2 separate regions of the Homo sapiens genome follow, and region 2 is linked to region 1. The links come from fine-mapping of genetic effects on gene expression. Tissue or cell type: whole blood. Region 1 holds a variant in brackets; the other region holds the start of a gene. All regions are shown on one strand. Distances are between the middles of the regions.

The links. PIP is the estimated chance that this variant, and not a neighbour inherited with it, causes the effect.
Region 2: it holds the start of ISCA1, and the variant in region 1 is fine-mapped to the expression of ISCA1 in whole blood (TOPMed, PIP above 0.99).

Annotation. Positions count from the first base shown.
Region 1 is chr9:86,395,254-86,405,930 of GRCh38, forward strand. No RefSeq gene overlaps it. Among named protein-coding and RNA genes, the nearest start is that of TUT7, 46 kb to the left of the region's middle. The variant G/T (reference allele first, on the strand shown) is at 5,934.
Region 2 is chr9:86,278,413-86,287,517 of GRCh38, forward strand. It overlaps ISCA1 (iron-sulfur cluster assembly 1), which reads right to left and starts at 4,126. Exons shown (of 4, transcript NM_030940.4): 1 at 3,966-4,126. The coding sequence starts at 4,046. It overlaps LOC124902194 (a long non-coding RNA gene), which reads right to left and starts at 3,669. Exons shown (of 2, transcript XR_007061634.1): 1 at 3,557-3,669; 2 at 1-3,041. RefSeq lists a silencer at 3,507-3,806 and enhancers at 3,977-4,126, 4,247-4,526.

The DNA.
Region 1 (10,677 bases):
AAACTTAAACAAATTTAGAAGAAAAAAACAAACCACCCCATCAAAAAGTGGGTAAAGGATATGAACAGACACTTCTCAAAAGAAGACATTTATGCAGCCAACAGACATGAAAAAATGCTCATCATCACTGGTCATCGGAGAAATGCAAATCAAAACCACAATGAGATACCATCTCATGCCAGTTAGAATGGTGATCATTAAAAAGTCAGGAAACAACAGGTGCTGGGGAGGATGTGGAGAAATAGGAATGCTTTTACACTGTTGGTAGGAGTGTAAATTAGTTCAACCATTGTGGAAGACAGTGTGGTGATTCCTCAAGGATCTAGAACTAGAAATACCATTTGACCCAGCCATCCCATTACTGGGTATATACCCAAAGGATTACAAATCATGCTACTATGAAGACACATGCACATTTATGTTTTTTGAGGCACTATTCACAAGAGCAAAGACTTGGAACTAACCCAAATGTCCATCAGTAATAGACTGGATTAAGAAAATATAGCACATATACACCATGGAATACTATGCAGCCATAAAAAAAGGATGAGTTAATGTCCTTTGCAGGGACATGGATGAATCTGGAAACCATCATTCTAAGCAAACTATCACAAGAATAGAAAACCAAACACTGCATGTTTTCACTCATAGTTGGGAGTTGAACAACGAGTACACATGGACACAGGGTGGGGAACATCACACACTGGGGCCTGTTGGGGGCTGGGGGCTTGGGGAGGGATAGCATTAGGAGAAATACCTAATGTAAGTGATGAGTTGAGGGGTACAGGAAACCAACATGGCACATGTCTACCTATGTAAAAAACCTGCACGTTGTGCACATGTACCGTAGAACTTAAAGTATAATAAAATAAAAAATAATAAAAATAAAAAATAAAAAAGTTACCTCAAGACATCCAGGGTTTCCCTTGGGAGGGGAGAGTCCCCTGCCAGCCTAGGTCAGAACTTTTAACTAATGATATTGGGTGGGGTTAATGCAATGATTCACATTTCCAGAAGCAATCCCTGCTAGCTATCATTCATTGTTTAGGAGGTGTGATATTCCCTCCTGGGCCAAAGAGGTGGAAGTTGAGAAGGAAGAAAGCAGTGAAGAGAATGAGAAAAGGGAAGAACTTGAAAGTCAAATGTGGTGGGAGTAGGAGAAAGCTTGGAAATTCAGTAAGAAAAAATTGAGCCTAAGGCAGAGCTGCACTGCCAATATATAAGGAGAAAATTGAAGAGTGGCCTTCATTCAAGAAAATAGAGTTCGATGAAACAAAAAAAGTAAATAAAAAAGATAAATGGACCTAACCTTGAACTGTCCTGGTTCCTGAACTGGTATGCTTTATCCCCTGGGCATGGAACAGGCCAAAGTGCCTCTCAGTGGGGTTGCCAGAGCAAATAAAGGGTGTCCCATACACTACTTGGAACATTCTTGTACCAAAAAAATTGTTCATTGCTTGCCTGAAACTCAAATCTCACTGGGTGTTTTGTATTCACTTAATTTATTTTGTTTTTGCTTAATTACTCTGTGAGGGCTTGCGCTCTGGGAAAGGATCAACCCAGAGGAATATTTACCGGCTCTCAGGTTGCCTAACCATGCTATCATCTTGCCGTGACTGTGAAAAAAACTCCCTTTTCTTCTTATTCCCAATGTTTTACTTTGAAAAATGTCAAACCTACAGAAGATTTGTGAGAAATGTACAATGAACTTCCATATGCTGTTTATATGTCACTAATTTTACCATTTTTGTCACATTTTCTTCCTTTCTCTCCCTTTGTACGTGTGTATCCTTAGCTGAACCATTTGAGAGTTACAGATATCATGATACCCAAGCCCCAAAACACTCTGCATGTCTCTCTCAAAAATTAGAATATTTTCCTATATATAAGCATGATGCAAAGATCACACTCGGGTCATATTTAACATTGACACAATACTATTTTCTAATATGCAGTCTATATTTAAATTTCTGCAGTTGGCCCAATACTGCTTTTTAGCATGGTTTCTAATTTTAATTTTCAATTTATATTTTTAGAGACTAGGTCCCGCTGTGCTGCCCAGTCTGGTCTCAAACTCCTGGGCTCAAGCGTTCCTCCCGTCTCAGCCACTTGAGCAGCTGGAACCACAGGTCCGTGCTGCTATGCTCAAGTCAGTTTTTGTTTTTTAATTCAAAGTTTGGGCAATGATCAGACCTTGCATTTGTTTTCATGTCTCTTTAGTGTTCTTTAATGTAAAACAGTTTGCCAGCCCTTTTAAAATTTGTGCATGATATTGACATTTTTGAAGAGTTCAGGCTGGTTCTTCTGCACGTGTCTGATTGTTTTCCCATGACTAGACTTTGGTTAAACATTATTGGCAAGAATACTGCACAGGGTGTGGTTGTGTCATGGGTCTCAGTACATTACAGAGCAGAGGACTGGTGATGTGAATTGTTTTAAAAATTGGTGATGTTGAATTTGTTCATTTAATTAAAGTGGTGTCTACTGGATTTCCCCATCATAATCATTCCTTTTTTTCTTTATAATTAAAATATAACCAGTGATGTGCTACTTTGAGACTGCGTGAATATCCTGTTTCCCCATCTTTCTCCCAATGGTTTTAGTACCCACAGATGATTCCTTTGCGAATCATATATTACTGTGGTAGTTACGAAATGGCAATTTTCTTTCTTTCTTTTTTTTTTTTTTTTTTGAGACAGAGTCTTGCTCTGTTGCCCAGGTTGGAGTGCAGTAGCGCCATCTCAGCTAACCACAACCTCCGCCTCCCAGGTTCAGGTGATTCTCCTGTCTCAGCCTCCCAAGTAGCTGGGATTACAGGCACCTGCCACTATGCCTGGTTAATTTTTGTATTTTTAGTAGAGACAGGTTTCACCATGTTGGCCAGGCTGGTCTTGAACTCCTGACCTCAAGTGATCCACCCATCTTGTCCTCCCAAAGCGCTGAGATTATAGGCATGAACCACCACGCCCAGCCATTGAAATGGCAATTTTCTATTATTTTTTCTTTTTTTGAGACAGGGTCTTGCTCTGTCACCCAGGCTGAAGTGCAGTGGCATGATCTTGGCTCACTGCAACCTCCACCTCCTGGGTCCTGATTTTCCTGCCTCAGCCTCCTTAGCAGCTGGGATTACAGGTGTGTGCCACCAGGCTCAGCTGTTTCTTGTATTTTTAGTAGAGATGGGGTTTCATCATGTTGACCAGGCTGGTTTCTAACTCCTGTCCTCAAATGATCTGCCTGCCTCAGCCTCCCAAACTGCTGGGATTACAGGCATGAGCCACTTTGCCTGACTGACAATTTTCTATTTCTATCATTTTGTCTATGTTTATTAGTTGGCATTTTTCTATAAAAAGGACTTCCCTTCTCTTCCTAATCCCTTTAACATTTCTTAATATCAGTATGAACTCATGAATTCTATTTTATTGAGTATGAATTGCCCCAAATTTGATGAGTGGCAGCCCCCATAAACTGGTTCTTGTATCTCTTTGACACATCTTCCTCAGTTTTTGAGCACTTTTAACATTTCTGGCACAATAAGATGTTCCAGGCTCACCTGAAAATGAGCTATGCTTCCAAAGGGTCTGGTGAATGGTATTTAGAGAGCAAGATATGGGTGCTGTGTGTGCTCACTACTCTGTGGCAAAATTGCTTTTAGGGCCTTTCAATGCACAGAACAGGAAAATACTTCTGTCAAAATCATGAATTCATAATGATACCACCAACTGATACCCAATCCAATAATATAGGATCTTCCTCCTCTCCTTCCCCTAATCTATATTTGTATCTTTTTTCTCCCACAGTGAAATTCCTGGTACCTCAAAATGTCAATAGATGTTTACTCATTTGCTCATTCTTGCAATATACACAAAATGGTTCCAGAATTGCCTCACCACCAACACTATTACCAAAAGCAAGCAAACCTAGCAAGTTTAAGATTCTTTTTTTTTTTTTTTTTGGTCTTAGACTCTTAGACTCTATTCCATTGAAGGTGTATAGCCAGAATACTTTCCTGCTGTGTCCAAAAGTTGTTTGGATTAATTCTTTTTTCTTTCCAATCATGTTACCAATTCGATTATAATCAAGTTTATTCATTTCTTTCACTGTCAGGTCTCTGTTCCTCCATTCTTGTTGATTTAATTTTATTTTTTGAATATGTAAAATACCAGCATGGTTCAAAATTCAAGACAGTATGAAAGTTATACTGAGACAGGTCCCATCCCCTTTTCATTTTTTTCCAGTCCATTTCCTCAACCCTCACAGGTAACCAAATTCATTTATTTCTTATTTATCCTGTATTTCTTTTTCTTTCTTCTTTTTTTTTTTTTAACGGAGTCTTGCTCTGTCGCCAGGCTGTAGTGCAGTGGCGCGATCTCGGCTCACTGCAACCTCCACCTCCCGGGGTCAAGCGATTCTCCTGCTTCAGCCTCCCGAGTAGCTGGGACTACAGGCATGCCACCACGCCCAGCTAATTTTTGTGTTTTAGAGACGGGGTTTCACTCTGTTGGCCAGGATGGTCTCGATCTCTTGACCTTGTGATCTGCCTGCCTTGGCCTCCCAAAGTGTTGGGATTACGTGCATGAGCCACAGCACCCGGCCTCTGTATTTTTCTTTTTTAAATAAATGAATGAATATATATTTTGTCTTTATCACACAAAAGGTAGCATACTATATACAGTCTTTTTTCATTTAGTAATATAGTCTGGAAATCAGTTTATATAGTTTAACAGAAATCTTTTTTATATTTGTACCAGAGTTTATCAACCAAACTCCTATGTATGGGCCTTTAGGGTGTTTCCAGTATTTTTCTATTACAAATAATGTTGCGATGAATAACTTTGTGCACGTGTTTTCTTCTGTTGTTGGAGGTGCATTTTCAGGGTAAATTCATAGAAGCGTGATCTCTGGATCAAAGGGAAACTGCAAATGTACTTTTGCTAGATATTGCCCGTTTCCTTTCCGTAGGTAACATTTTGTACCGCCCAGGAGGGAAGGAGAGCGTGTGCTTTCCCACAACCTCTCTTGTTTGTCAAGAGTTTACATTTCTGCCAATCTGATAGGTGCAAAATAGCATCTCATATAGTTTTTTGTTTGTTTGTTTGTTTGTTTTTTTTGAGACAGAGTCTTGCTCTGTCGCCCAGGCTGGAGTGCAGTGGCCCGATCGCGGCTCACTGCAGCCTCCGCCTCCTGGGTTCACACCATTCTCCTACCTCAGCCTCCTGAGTAGCTGGGACTACAGGCGAGCGCCACCACGCCCTGCTAAGTTTTTTTTGTATTTTTAGTAGAGACGGGGTTTCACTGTGTTAGCCAGGGTGGTCTCAATCCCCTGACCTCGTGATCCACCTACCTCGGCCTCCCTAAGTGTTGGGATTACAGGCGTGAGCCACTGCGCCCAGCCGCATCTCATATAGTTTTAACATGTGCTTCTTTTTTATGAGTTGAGCATCTTTTCATGTTTTTTCTTTTCTTTCTTTCTTTTTTTTTTTTAAGACAAAAATCTCACTCTGTTGTGGAGTGCAATGGTGCGATATTGGCTTACTGCAACCTCCGCCTCCCTGGTTCAAGCAATTCTCCTGCCTCAGGCTCCTGAGCAGCGGTGATTACAGGTGTGGTGGAGGGCTAATTTTTGGTATTTTTAGTAGAGATGAGGTTTCACCGTGTTGGCCAGGCTGGTCTTTAACTCCTGACCTCAGGTGATCCCCCTGCCTCAGCCTCTCAAAGTGCTGGGATTACAGGCGTGAGCCACCACACCCAGCCTCATGTGTTCTTTTCCTTTTTAAAAATATATATAAAACTTTGGTCATAATATTGGAATTGAATTATTCATCAGGGCTGAAATAAAATGAAACAAAACTTTTTTTCCCAAAGAATCTCTATCTTGGTGGCTTCACGTACATAAGAAATAGTTTTATGATGTATTAGAGAACAATGGATTTAAA[G/T]ATAAAGCATGATTTTGTAACAATATTACAAAACAGTTTGAGGCATGAAGTTAAAAAAAGTCACTATCTGAGTGGAATAAGTTCTACAGTTCTGTATTTTCTCCATGCAAATTTGGAGAAAGGTTAATGATAATCTCTTTGTCTGGTATATCACTCTATTACAAAAGGCTCTTACTTGCTTCTTTTCTTTTTTTGAGACAGTCTCCCTCAATTACCCAGGCTGGAGTGCACTGGTGCGATTTCGGTTTACTGCATTCCCAACCTCCTGGGCTCATGTGATTCTCCCATCTCAGCCTCCCGAGTAGCTGGGACTACAGGTGTATGCCACCACACCCGGCTAATTTTTGTATTTTTTGTAGAGATGGGGTTTCACCATGTTGCCCAGGCTGGTCTCGAACTACTCGCTCAAGCCATCAGCCTGGCTCAGCCTCCCAAAGTGCTGAGATTACAGGCGTGAGTCACCACGCCCTGCCCAAGAATCTCACTTTTAATACTGTGGGGCACATTGGACCCATTTTATCCCATTTTATGGATGAGAAAACTGAGACTGAGAGAGGTTTGGAGACTTGTGCAAGGCTATGTGACTAATAAGAGGCAGAGTCACAATTAGAACTCTGGGCCGGGTGCGGTGGCTCATGCCTGCAATCCCAGCACTTTGGGAGGCCAAGGCGGGTGGATCACCTGAGATCAGGAGTTCAAGACCAGCCTGGCCAACATAGTGAAACCCTATCTCTACTAAAAACACAAAAAATTTAGCTGGACATGGTGGCGGGCACCTGTAATCCCAGCTACTCAGGAGGCTGAGGCAGGAGAATCACTTGAAACTGGCAGAGGTTGTAACGTGAGCCGAGATTGCACCATTGCACTCCAGCCTGGGCAATGAGAGCAAAACTCTGTCTCAAACAAACAAACAAACAAACAAAAAAAGAAATAGAACTCCGGCTGTTTGATCAGTATTCTTCAAGTCACTAAAAATTAAACATTAAATTGTGAATTCACATCCTGGGTATTTACGTTTCAGTGGTAGTTCAGAATTTAGGGTTTTTCTTGTGTATTGATAGAAAACTCATTTTAAAAATACTGATTATGGCAATGCAGTTAGTAAGCTAAAATTTTTTCCTTCTATTACTTTTTGTCTTTTTTTAAATTTGAAGTGGAGTCGTGCTCTGTCACCCAGGCTGTCTGGAATGCAGTGGTGCAATCTCAGTTCACTGCAACCTCCACCTCCCGGGTTCAAGCGATCCTCCCACCTCAGCCTCCTGAGTAGCTGGGACTACAAGCACCCACCAGGTTTTTTGTTTTTTTTTAGTAGAGATGGGGTTTTGCCATGTTGCCCTGTCTGGTCTCTGACTCGTGAGCTCAAGTAATCCTCTTGCCTCGGCCTCGCAAAGTCCTTGGATTACAGGTGTGAGCCACTGTGCCCAACCTTCTAAGTTAATGATGTTAATTAAATATTTTTTCATTTGGGGCATGCCCAGCAACTCAGGGTAAGCCAAATTTATAGTTTATGGAGATGCTAAGTAAAGTGGAGACACAGTTTATGCATATGCAGAGGACTCATCTGCCATTTTCAGACTTTCTTGGGTGTTCCTATCAGTTTCCTGTCAGTGACTTCCTCTCTCCCTGATGGTAAAAACTAAACTTGGTAACGTGGTCTGCAGCCCCTGAGAAACCTGCTCCTTCCAACCTCCCGGCTTCATGCTGCTCATTCTCCCCAGCGTTCTTTTTGCCCTAAACACACATTGCATTCTTTCAGTCCTCCAACTTGCCACCCATATTCCTCTTCCTGGGGTGCTTTGCTCTATTTTCTTCACCTAGTTAAGGTCTCATCATTCAGTTCTCAGGCCAAGCATTGCTTATTTGTGGAAGAGGTCTCTGATCCCCCTGGCGAGGCCAGCTTCCCTGTTCATTCTCTCATTGCACCATGAGAGGGCTGCATAGCCCTCCTGACCACTGTCATTTTATAGACTTTTGTGCAGTGACTTGATTAGTGTCTGTCTTTCTCATTGGTGTGTGAATGCCAGGACTCTGGTTTTGCTCAACATGGGGTTCCACAGCCTGGCATAGTTCCTTTGCACATGGCAGGAGTTCAGCAAATATTGATGGGTGCATGACTTTGTTCATGGTTGTCTCTGTGCATCTGCACGGGGGTTCCCTCTGCTTGGCATGCCACTTACACACTGTCTCATCTCTAGATCTTTTTGCACCTTAATATTTTGAGCCTTTAGTAGAAATACATACAGTAGGTTCTCACTTAATGACCTCAATCGGTTCTTGGAAACTGTGACTTTAAGCAAAATGATGTGTGACAAAACCAATTTTTTTTAATCAACGTTATAATAAAACAATGTTGAACAAAACGATGCTATTTGAGGACCTGCTACACATAGTTCTGCTTAAAGTCGCAGTTTCCAAGAACCTATCAAAAACGTTAAGTGAGGACTTACTATGTGTTTAATCATATGATATTTTATGTAACCCAGCTAGCAGCTGAGGCCACATTGCCTTCTAGCTCTACTTCTGCCTGTATTTTTTCTGCTTTATGATCTGTCAACTTGGACACAAACCCCACTCATACTCTTAACCCACTTCCAAGCCTTTATGGGCTTAGTGGCTTTGGTGAGACTTTGAGGGGCTGTCTTCTTTATCACTGCATTGACTCTTCTTTTTTCTCTCTCTTTTAACTTTCTCTTTCCTTCAGTCTCTTCTTCCTCCTTCACTTCAGGAGTGTCACAGACATCTCACCCTTCTCAGGATAATTTTGTGGAAGCCACAGTGCCAGCCAACATCCATGACCCCATGGGTACCTCCCTGGCTGAAGTGGGCTGACCCAGGGTCTTTTCCCAACAATGATGGATCCTGTACAAGATGAATTCTGGTACCTGCTGCTAAAAGGATACAATTTCATTATTGTTATGGGCTGAATGTTGTGTACCTCCAAAATGGGTATGTTGAAATCCTAACCCCCAAGGTGATGGTATCAGGAGGTGGAGGCTTTGGGAGGTGATTAGGCAATGATGAAGAAGCCCTCTTGAATGGGATTAGTGCCCCTTTAGAAGGCACCCCATAGAACGCCCTCATTATGTGAGACACAGTGAGAAGAACCAGGAAGCAGGCCCTCACCAGACATGGAATCTATCAGTGTCTTGATCTGGGACACTCCAGCCTCCAGAACAGTAAGAAATAATAAGTTCCTGTTGTTTATAAGCCAACCAGTTTATGGTATTTTGTTATAAAAGCCAAAATAGACTAAGAACATTATGTTATATTAGAGTGATATCATATAACTGATCAAGTTTGGAGGATGTCCAGTGCCCTAGCCCATGCCGTCTGAGGAGAGGTTGATGAAGAGAATGATGAGAGGAAGTGAGAATAACTTTCTCACCTTTCCTGAGACACATTCCTCCTACCATGGTCCCATTACGGGGCCTTCCTACAATCACTTTCCAGCTTTCCCTTGTTTCCCTGTTTCTACCCTCAGACAAAGTAGTAGAATGATTACATTCTCAAGAGGTCCTGTGAGGATGCTTGGGCAAAATCAGACTCATGTCAGGCCATTTTAATTTCTAGAATCCCCGGATAGGACCTGCGGCCAGCTCAGAAAGACCTGATGGTAATGTGCCATCTTCCCTTCACAAACACTTGAGTGGGTCTGTCTAAATGTCCTAAGTGGACATTTCTGTTATCCTCAGTTTTTCTTCCAGGGTTCGTCGCATTTCTTTGTGAAAAGCTACCTTATGCAAGCATTTTGTGTGATACTGTTCAGAGTCTGAGGTTTTAGCGCTGACCCTGGAGACCGTTAGTTTTATTCTATACTAGGTGTTTGTAAGTGGGGACTTTATTTAGATAAATTGACAACAGCAAAGTGCCACCCCACTTCACCCCAACATTCATTAAGGATTTGCTGTGTCCCAGAAATTATACTCTGGTGGTTATACACATTGCCTCATTATATCCTTAAAACTGCTTTTTGAGACAGATAGGATTGTGATTCCTGTAGCAATCTTGAAACTGGACTCAGAGAGGGTAGGAAGTTTGTTCTAAGGCGCACAGCTATGACCAGCACAACTGAATCTTACCTTAACTCACATCAAAGCCTCTGAGCTTAAATATTAGGCTATTTACCATGGCTGTGAGAGACGGGGAACAAAAAACAGTGTTTAGTTAAATCAACAGCTATGTTTACACTCTCTGTATAAACAGTGCAATGTCCTCAAAGAAATCACACAAGAAGGAACAGTAACTCCTGCCAACACACTGGTAAACTTGGCTCTGCCAAAACTATTAGCTCTTGTTTTCACTCATCAATGTCTTATGTTTCTTTTGCCATCATCTTTTTTTATTCATTAACCCCAGAGCCTCAACTATCTCTCATTTAAGATAATTGTTCTTATAGTTTTCCAGAAAAACCCATTTCTCCTTTTACTTTTTCCTAGTATCTCTTCCCATAAAAGGCAATGCCCCTAAATTTGTATCATTCCAGGCATTAGAGAACCAAGCTCAGAAACACTTATAAGATTTTTAAGGTTATCGTTCTCCCCCCAAAACACATGCACATTACCTTTGCAGAGTTATTATTCAAAATATAGACTTAGAAGCTCTCTGGGCTATAGTCAGCTGGTAATTAATTATAATGACTTCAAGGTATGTTAAATTTGTACGGGGGTGGGGAGAGGGTCACTTGCAGCCTCAAGAGGACAGAGCACACCGTGAACCAGTTCTGGAACCTGCTTACAGATCTCAA
Region 2 (9,105 bases), 120 kb before region 1:
CCAGCACTTTGGGAGGCCAAGGTGGGAGGACGGCTTGAGGCCAGGAGTTTGAGACCAGCCTGTGCAACAGAGCAAGACCCTGTCTCTACAATAAATTAAAAAAAAAAAATTAGCAGTCAAGGTGACATGTGCCTGTAGTCCCAGTTACTTGGGAGGCTGAGGTGAAAGGATTGCTTGAGCCCAGGAGTTTGAAGCTGCAGTAAGCCATGATCATGCCACTGCATATGAGCCTGGGTGACAGAGGAAGATCCTGTCTCTAAAAAGAAAAAGGTTTGTAATCATGGCATATATACATAATTTTGCAGCCTCCATTGAAACAATTTAACAAATTATTTTTTCATTTGATACATGGTAATAAACATATATTCACCATTTACTGAGCACCTTCTAAGTGTTTAATGGTTTAAACGTAACATCTTTTTATTCCTGCCATTGTGATTTAGGTATTAAAGATTAAATAATTTGCACAGCATAAGTCAAAGAATGAAGATTTATAACGCTGAAACTTAAAAAAAACCATAATTTACAATGACTACATCCTTCACCAACAGGATCTACTCTCACGTACTTAACCGTTCTTTCACTGTTAGACTGCTAGGCTACTTCCAGTGCTTCTTGTGTAGTATTTCCTAAACTGCCTTCGTATAGAAATCTTAGTGCTTGGTCACTGTTCAAAAGGACTTCTGGTTCTAGTCCAATGAACTAACACACAGTTCCTTACTGAGCATTAAGCATTTCCTAGCTTCTCAACTGGACTCCAATAGAAAGTTAAGCCCTAAGGCACCTTCCGTACACAATGAATTCATCAAGAATGATAGTGGCTGTGCACCATCATTCTCTCATAGAACTTGGTTGAGTTTTAATGCACAGCTGTGATCCACCCCAGTCCTACAAATTAGAGTTGCTCTGACTTGTACAATGATGGAAATAAATCTGTCTGCAAGCAGGGCACTATTTACTCTTCAGATTCTTTAATCACATCTGGCTCCTGCAAGTTCAATTCCACTTGTCAATTTCTAGATATGTAGGGAAATAGGGAAGATGTAGATAATCTGATAATGACAGCATTGAACTGTGTTATATTATCAGTTACTTTTCCTAGCCTTTTGTTGACATCTGGTAGACTCCACACATATAGCACTTTTCAAATGTTGCAACATGTCAAATTCCTAACATCAAAATTTATATATCCAGGTAACATTTATCCCTTCCAATCAGTTTTACTGAATTAGGTATACTTGTGTTTGCTCTTATCTGTCTCTACTTATTAGACCCAAGTAACATTTACCTCTTCCAATCAGTTTTACTGAATTACGTATACTTTTGTTTGCTCTCTTATCTGTCTCCATTCATTAGGCCTTTGACGGCATCACTACTTTTGCACTTGACGATACATGCTGATGATAAACTAAGCACAAAGAGCAATACATGCCATAGTGTCCTGACTAGGGCACGAATGCTGGAACTAAAATGACTGCAAGCCCACCAACACAGGCTGTGTGGAAAACAGCATTGATGTGCCTTCTCTCTGGTACAGCTTCTGAGAAGCTTCTAAAGTCAGCCATACTTAAGTAGGACAACAGAGTACAGACAGTAGACTCCTGCAAGTTAATCAAAACAGCTGAGTCAGGCAACATGGATACCTTGAGAACTGCTATGATAACATGTACTGAAGCAGAGGGGAGCAAGTGTGGAGAGAGACCAAGCCTGAGAATGTGCAGTGCTATTACTCCTAGTAAGAGGTGGCAAAGGCTTGGCCTGCGACTGTGCCCCGTAGGCTGGGAACTGTATAACTCATTCATTTGTCTTGAAACACAGCAGATCTTGATAAATGTCTGCTGAATGACTAGGAATGGAGAGAAAGGGACTGACATAGAAATTCTGAAGGAAGGGCAAGGCACGGTGGCTCATGCCTGTGATCCCAGCACTTTGGGAGGCTGAGACGAGTGGATCACGAGGTCAGGAGTCCAAGACCAGCCTGGTGAAGATGGTGAAACCCCATCTCTACTAAAAATACAAAAATAAATAAATAAATAAGCTGGGCATGGTGGTGGGCGTCTGTAATCCCAGCTACTCAGGAGGCTGAGGCAGAGAGTTGCTTGAACTCAGTAGGCAGAGGCTGCAGTGAGCTGAGATCACGCCACTGCACTCCAGCCTGGGCAACCCAGCGAAACCCTGTCTCAAAAAAAAAAAAAAAAAAAAGAAATTCTGAAGGAAGAGGTAACATGTCAAATGGTGATGGAGAAAGACATCAGGGACCAGGCATGGTGGCTCACACCTGTAATCCCTGCACACTGGGAGCCTGAGGCAGTGGACTGCTTGAGCCCAGGAGTTCGAGACCAGCCTGGGCAACCCAGGGAGACCCTAGGTGCATGCATGACGGTGCACACCGGTGGTCCCAGCGACTTGGGAGCCTGAGGTGGGAGGATCGCTTGGGCCCAGGAGGTTGACGCTGCAGTGTGCCATGATTGCACCACTGAACTACAGCCTGGGAGATAGAGTGAGACCCTGTCTCCAAAAACAAAACAAACAAAAACAAACAAACAAACAAAAAACAAAAAACAAAAAACCCAGTTAATAGGGTTGCTAAAAAGCAAAAAAGAAAAGGCAAAAACTGTTCCTGAACCTTCTGGCTCTTCCTGGATCTACCATTACCAGTGGAAGAATTCTGAATAATTCTTACTGAGATTGAAAGAGACACAAAGAATGAGTTGTGCCCTCTAGTTCTTAAAACCTTGTTTAATTCTACATCCCACGGTGTATGAAAATAAGCTTGCTCCTACAGAAAAGAGGTAATATAGAATGATACATAATCAGTACACTAGTAGTACCATATATAATCAGGGTAATATCAAAGGCCTAAAAAATTGATTATAAAAATAAATTCTCTCACCTGATCACAATTTTCTTCTACTTTGCTACAAACTTATTTTCTGGTAATAGGCCCTTTTGGCATTAGATGCAACAGAATCGATGAGTCAATTTAAATCGTTTTTTTTCCCAGTCTCTAAGCGAATGGTTGCATAAAGTCGTCTCCTTCACTAAAAGGGGAGTGTATGTAGGAACGTGATCATAAATTTTTCTTTTGGGGTGAAAGTATTTTGGAACTAGATAGAGGTGATGGTTGCACGACACTGTGAATGTCTTAAATGGCACTGAATTGTACCCTTTAAAAGGACTAATTTTATGTTATGTGGATTTTCCTTCCACTAAAAAACTGAACGGTGCGGCCGGAACACTGAGCTCAGTGAATTCTCTAAGTAATCAATGGTTGCACTCTGGTGCCCTCTGAGTGTTTGACCTTTCACCCAGAAAAGGCTGTAAACTCACTCTGGGAAATCATCTTTTGTCCTAAGAGCCTAGGCTTGCTAGAGGCACAGAGGGAGTTTCAAAGGCCTCAATCACCCAGGACACCGGCAAGTAACGCTTTGCGCGCCGCGGCCGTGACCTCGGCAGGAGCCGGGGGCTTTGTTGTCGCTGTGCTCGCCCTCTGCGAACGCTGTCGCCCCGACACAGCGGTCCTTCGGACAGCCTGGTCCCTCCCCACCCCACGCACCTCCAGGCTAGGACTCCGGGCCACCACCGGGAACCCCCGCCACCGGGCACGTTCAGCCTCTGCTTAACCGGAACGGCCGAACAGCGCAGGCCGGCAGGAGTGTGGAGGCGATCGGCCCCCGGGGACGCCCACCCCCGGGATCCCCTCCGGCCCGCACGCGGTTGCCGCGCGGCCTGACGGGAAACGTAGTTTCCGGGGCCAAGAGAGCAGCCCCGCCCGGGACTTGTTTATCGTTGCAAAGAGGGGCCGGAGGCGAAGGAGGCGGCGAGGCTGTGCGGCGGGTCGGAGCGACGCCGAGGTCTGACGTGTCCGCGTCCCTGCGGCCCCACTCCCGGCCGCCGTGACCTCCCCTTGCACGGGGCGGACACGAGCAATGTCACGGGCCCCGCCGCGCGCCGCGAGCACTCACCAGGGTGAGGGCTGCCCGGGTGGGCTGCAGCTTCCTCTTGCTCACAGCCCGGACAGTTGCCCGGACTAAGGAAGCCGACATCTTCGCCGTCCCGGCGCCCCGGTGCCTCGGGCCGAAGGTCGGCCGCCTCAGCTTCTCTCCATGGACACGGCGGGCGCATTGACGCCACAAGCTTCGGCGCACGGCGCCCTCAGTCCTAGCCCCGCCCCCCGCCGCCACCATTGGGTGAGTTGCATGAGTGACGAGCCGGGGGCGGGGCAAGCCGCTCGGGGCGGGGTTTTGCCGCTCAACGCCGGGGGTCTAGCAGCTGGGTTGCGCACGGTCTCCGGCAGTGGGGTTACCACGCTGCAGGGCGCAGGGCCCGGGAGGAATGTCTTCACCGCCGAGGACGGAGTCGGCGTGACGTCGGGGAGCGGGCGGGAGGGGGCGAGGAATGACCTCAGACCTGCTGACTCCGGATGCACGTAGCTTCACCACCTGCCCCCGGGGCAAGGTGCAGCGTCACCCCCTGCTTTAATACTCACCGTGACAAACACCATCATAGGCGGTGACACTTAAGGACGCATAAGTCAACCCTGCACTGGGAGCTTATGCTCTCAAATGCAGAGTGATCGTTCCGATGCCCAGACATCTACATCCATTTTCATTCTTCTTTTGTGGTCCAATTAGGCTGTTCTTAAGAGCATGGCGTTACCGCAGAGTTGTATAATCGCCACCCTCCACCCTTCTCCCCAGCGTGCTGTACTGCTGGGGATGCTGAAGGGTGGTGACTAATGCAGTTTTCATTCTGGTGCTGAACTGGGAACCAACCCTACTTGAAAATGTGACTGGGCAGCAGTGTGAATAGTCACATTTATAGCGAGCAACAATTACTCGATTTAAAACGTGTTGTCAGACCTTGTCCTGGCTGCTCAGGGGCTTAATTCTGCCTTTTGATGCAGTATTCCTGAGCACCAGACACTGCACAGGCGCGGTACCCAGGCATACACAGGAAGCCAGGTAAAGAGGGGCCAGGGAAGAATGAGATACTGGCAGGACAGGGCTAGCAGATGAAGAGAGGAGGACATCAAGACAGGTGGCATTTGTCATTGAAGTGCTAGAAGTGAAGGAAAAAGGGCAGGAGGGGTCTATGAAGCAGTCCTGGGGAGGACAGATTCGCAGTGTTTGAATGTGGGAAGAACTAATCAGTGAAACATTTTTTAAAGCCAAGTTTATCTTCGATCTCCTGCAGTTTCTGAAAGGATAGTTCAAAATTCCATCAAGTAGTTCTGACTTCCTGCTACAGAAATGCAATCGCATTGACAATAAGAGGACGCTTTTTTTTTTCCCCTAAGCCTTATCTGCACATAAACTGGGGGCCGGGCGCGTGGCTCACGCCTGTAATCCCAGCACTTTGGGAGGCCGAGGCGGGGAGATCACCTGAGGTCAGGAGTTCGAGACCAGGTTGGCCAACATGGTGAGACCCCATCTCTGCTAAAAATACAAAAATTAGCCGGGTGTGGTGGTGCACACCTGTTATCCTAGCTACTCAGGAGGCTGAGGCAGGAGAATCGCTTGAACCTGGGAGGCGGAGGTTGCAGTGAGCTGAGATCGTGCCACTGCACTCCCAGCCTGGGCAACGGAGTGAGACTCTGTCTCAAAAAAAAAAAGAAAGAACGGAAGATAGGAAGAGAGAGACAGACAGACAGATAGAAAGAAGAAAGAAAGAGAGAGAAAGAAAGAAAATAAAAGAAACTGGGGGCCGGGCGCAGTGGCTCACACGTGTAATCCCAGCACTTTGGGAGGCCGGAGGCCGGCAGATTACTTGAGATAAGGAGTTCTAGACCAGCCTGGCCAACATGGTGAAACCCCGTCTCTACTAAAAATACAAAAATTAGCCGGGCGTGTTTGCGGGCACCTGTAATCCCAGCTACCCAGGAGGCGGAGGTTGCAGTGAGCCAAGATTGCGCCACTGCACCCCAGCCTGGGTGACAGAGCGAGACTGCATCTCGAAAGAAAGAAACTGAAAAAGTGATGGGAGGGAGGAAGGGAGGGAGGGAGGGACATAGAGAGGTGGTGGTGTGGTGGGTTTGTTTCTTGGCCTTCATCTTTGACTACCTGGGGGTTTGGGATCTCATATCCTCCCTCCTACAGATATTGTGAAGATTAAATGAGTTAATACAGGAGAAGCCCTTAGAGGGGTGCAAGGCACACAGCCTCACTCAAATGGTAATTGTTAATGAGTATTTAAAGATGCCATGTATTGTGAAACTACTATAATGGTGGATAGATATCATTATGCGTTTGTCAAAACCCACACAATGTACACCACCAAGAGTGAACCCTAAGGTAAACTATGGGCACTGAGAGCTAATGATGTGTCCATGTAGGTTTAAGATTGTAACAAGTGTACCACTGTGGTGCAGAGTGACAGTGAGGCACATGTGGAAACAAGGGATATATGCAGTTCTGTTTTTCTGCTTAACTTTGCTGTGAACCTAAAACAGCCCTAAAATTAAAATTTAATAAAAATAAAAGATGCTGTCATTTTTTTTTCAGTTATTGACACATTACACAGTTGTGCAGCACTTTACAAGATTCAGAAAACTCCATGAGCATATTATATTATCTCATACTAGCCTCACAACTTTGAACTGAGTAGGGCAGAAGCACTGGCATGGCAGTTTTACAGATGCTGAAACTCAAGGATTTTAGTAGAGAGCATTAGACACTATTGAAAACATCTAGTCCTCAATTTTCTGATTCAGGATCCTGTGTATGTTTAACAGACTTCTTTCCTCTATTTAATACCCACTATTTAACAAAAACAAACAAAAAAGAAAACCCCACTATTCAGTTTTTAACTTGGTTAGTTGTTTTGCACATAAGCATTAAGTCACATAATCTACTTGTTAGTTTCTAATATCACTTGAAACTGGCACAAGTCCCTGAAATAATGTTATGTTAGAATAAATAATTTTCACGATTATTTAAGCAGTATGTGAGCTTATCTCAGAGCAGCAGCTGTCCAGTGGTGTCAAAATGAGGTGGGTATGGGAAGTGTCAAAAGAGTTACAAGCTGTAACCACTTTTAGATTTCCACTAATATGTGACAGAACTTGCAATAGGGAACTGTTTCACCCCGCACTTCAGGCATTAGTTTCATAGTTCTAGACATTTAAAGAAGTGTTTTCCTGGTAAGACCTCACTTGATTATCACAACTGTGTGGAAAGCCAAGAATGGTTTCCATTTTATAGGAATGGAAACTGAACTGCCTGAGATTAGGGGACTGCCACACAGCTGGAAAACGAGGTGGGCCAGACCTTGTCTAAGTCTAGAGTTCCATTCAGTGGAAAGTCTATGTAGTTCTTGACTGCTGCTGTCCAAATATGCCTGCTTCCAAAGAAAAAACTACTGAGGGCTTTACAGTTTTACAGGGGTTTGATAAATTCTGTTTTCAACGTGTGTGTGTATATTTTTGCTTGTAACACTGAACTCTATTGATGTATTTATCCAGGATCTTTTCCACTCAGGAAAGATTTAAAAGTAGAAGCCATTTGTCAAACATATTTCAAGAAGAAAAATACACTGAAGTTATCTAAGAACATTTAAAAACATTTTTGCACACTGCTGATCCTGCACACATTGAGCAAGAGTTTTGTTGTTGTTGTTGTTGTTTGAGATGGAGTCTTGCTCTGTCGCCGAGGCTGGAGTGCAGTGGTGCAATCTTGGCTCATTGCAACCTCCGTCTCCTGGGTTCAAGTGATTCTCCTGCCTCAGCCTTCTGAGTAGCTGGGATTACAGATGCCCATTACCAAGCCCAGCTAATTTTTGTATTTTTAGTAGAGACGGGGTTTTGCCATGTTGGCCAGGCTGGTCTCGAACTCCTGACCTCAAGCGATCTGCCCGCCTCGGCCTCCCAAAGTGCTGGGATTACAGGGGTGAGCCACTGCACCCAGCCAAGCAAGAGTTTTAAACATCATAGATTGGGGCCACTGGACCACTGCTATACAAAAGAGATTTCATATTTTTGTTCCTGAGAGAAGGTGGCAAGGAGAACCTTGGTAATGGGGCATTTGTACAGCTTAAGATAGATAAGCCGGCTGCACTTGAAAGATAGCTAGGCCAATGGACTTAGCAAAGAGCAGACGTTTTGGCATCCCAGCTGGGGCAGCAAGATGGGGCTGCGACCACATCCAGGTAAAGAATCAAGGGCAATCCATTATCCAGGCCTGCTGGCAAATACTGCTCATTGTCCCATGGATCCAGTGTGAGGTATTGAAAATCAAACAAAAGACCCAGTACTTTGGGCAGAAGCTACCTTAAGGATCAGATTAAAATGTAGGAAACTTTTAACATCCTTAAAGGGATACAAGAAAATATGGCTCCTATGAAAAGGAAGAGAATATAAGTAAACTAAAGAAATGAGAGGTAAAGGAAGGTCAGTGAGGCAAATTCCAGAAAATTAGAAGTGCAATGAGAAAATCCATATTAGAAACAGGAAGCACCAGAATGACAGTAAAAATTAAGCCAGTCATGTAGAGATTAAACTTGAAGTTTTCCTAGCATGAAAAGTCACTGGATAGATGTATTTCTATATTGAGGTAATTTTCTTTCTGAATTACAGGGATAAAATTAAAAAACAGAAGCACCCAGGCAGAAAAACAAAACCTACAAGAGAACAAAAATCAGCCTGGTCTTAGACTTGTCTTCTGCTATAATGCTAGAAAACAACAGAACAGCATCAATGGGCTTTTCAAAGAAAAGTGTGACAAGCATTGTAAGCCTAGTCGACTTTCATGCATGAGTTAGAGAGAAGAAACCAGAAGGGGGCAGCTGAGGACGGTCACGTAGAGCAGCATCAGCCCAGGTTGCGTCATTCATTAGTTTGCGTTCAAAATGAGTAGGGAATGATCACTAATTCTTTCTACCATGGCCTCCAAATTCTGAAGTCTTTAATTTTGATATGATTCGTCTTTAGCTAGACTGTCTTCAAATAATTGTTTAAAAAAGAAGGGCACAGGGATGTGCGTCTTCTGAGTCCTCAAACATCCAGAATGTTCGTCCAGCAAGCACCCCCTGAGCCTCCCTGCCTACAAATTCCCCGCCCCCCCACCCCCATCTGTGCCTTTTATAATAACAAATTTATACGTTCCCAGA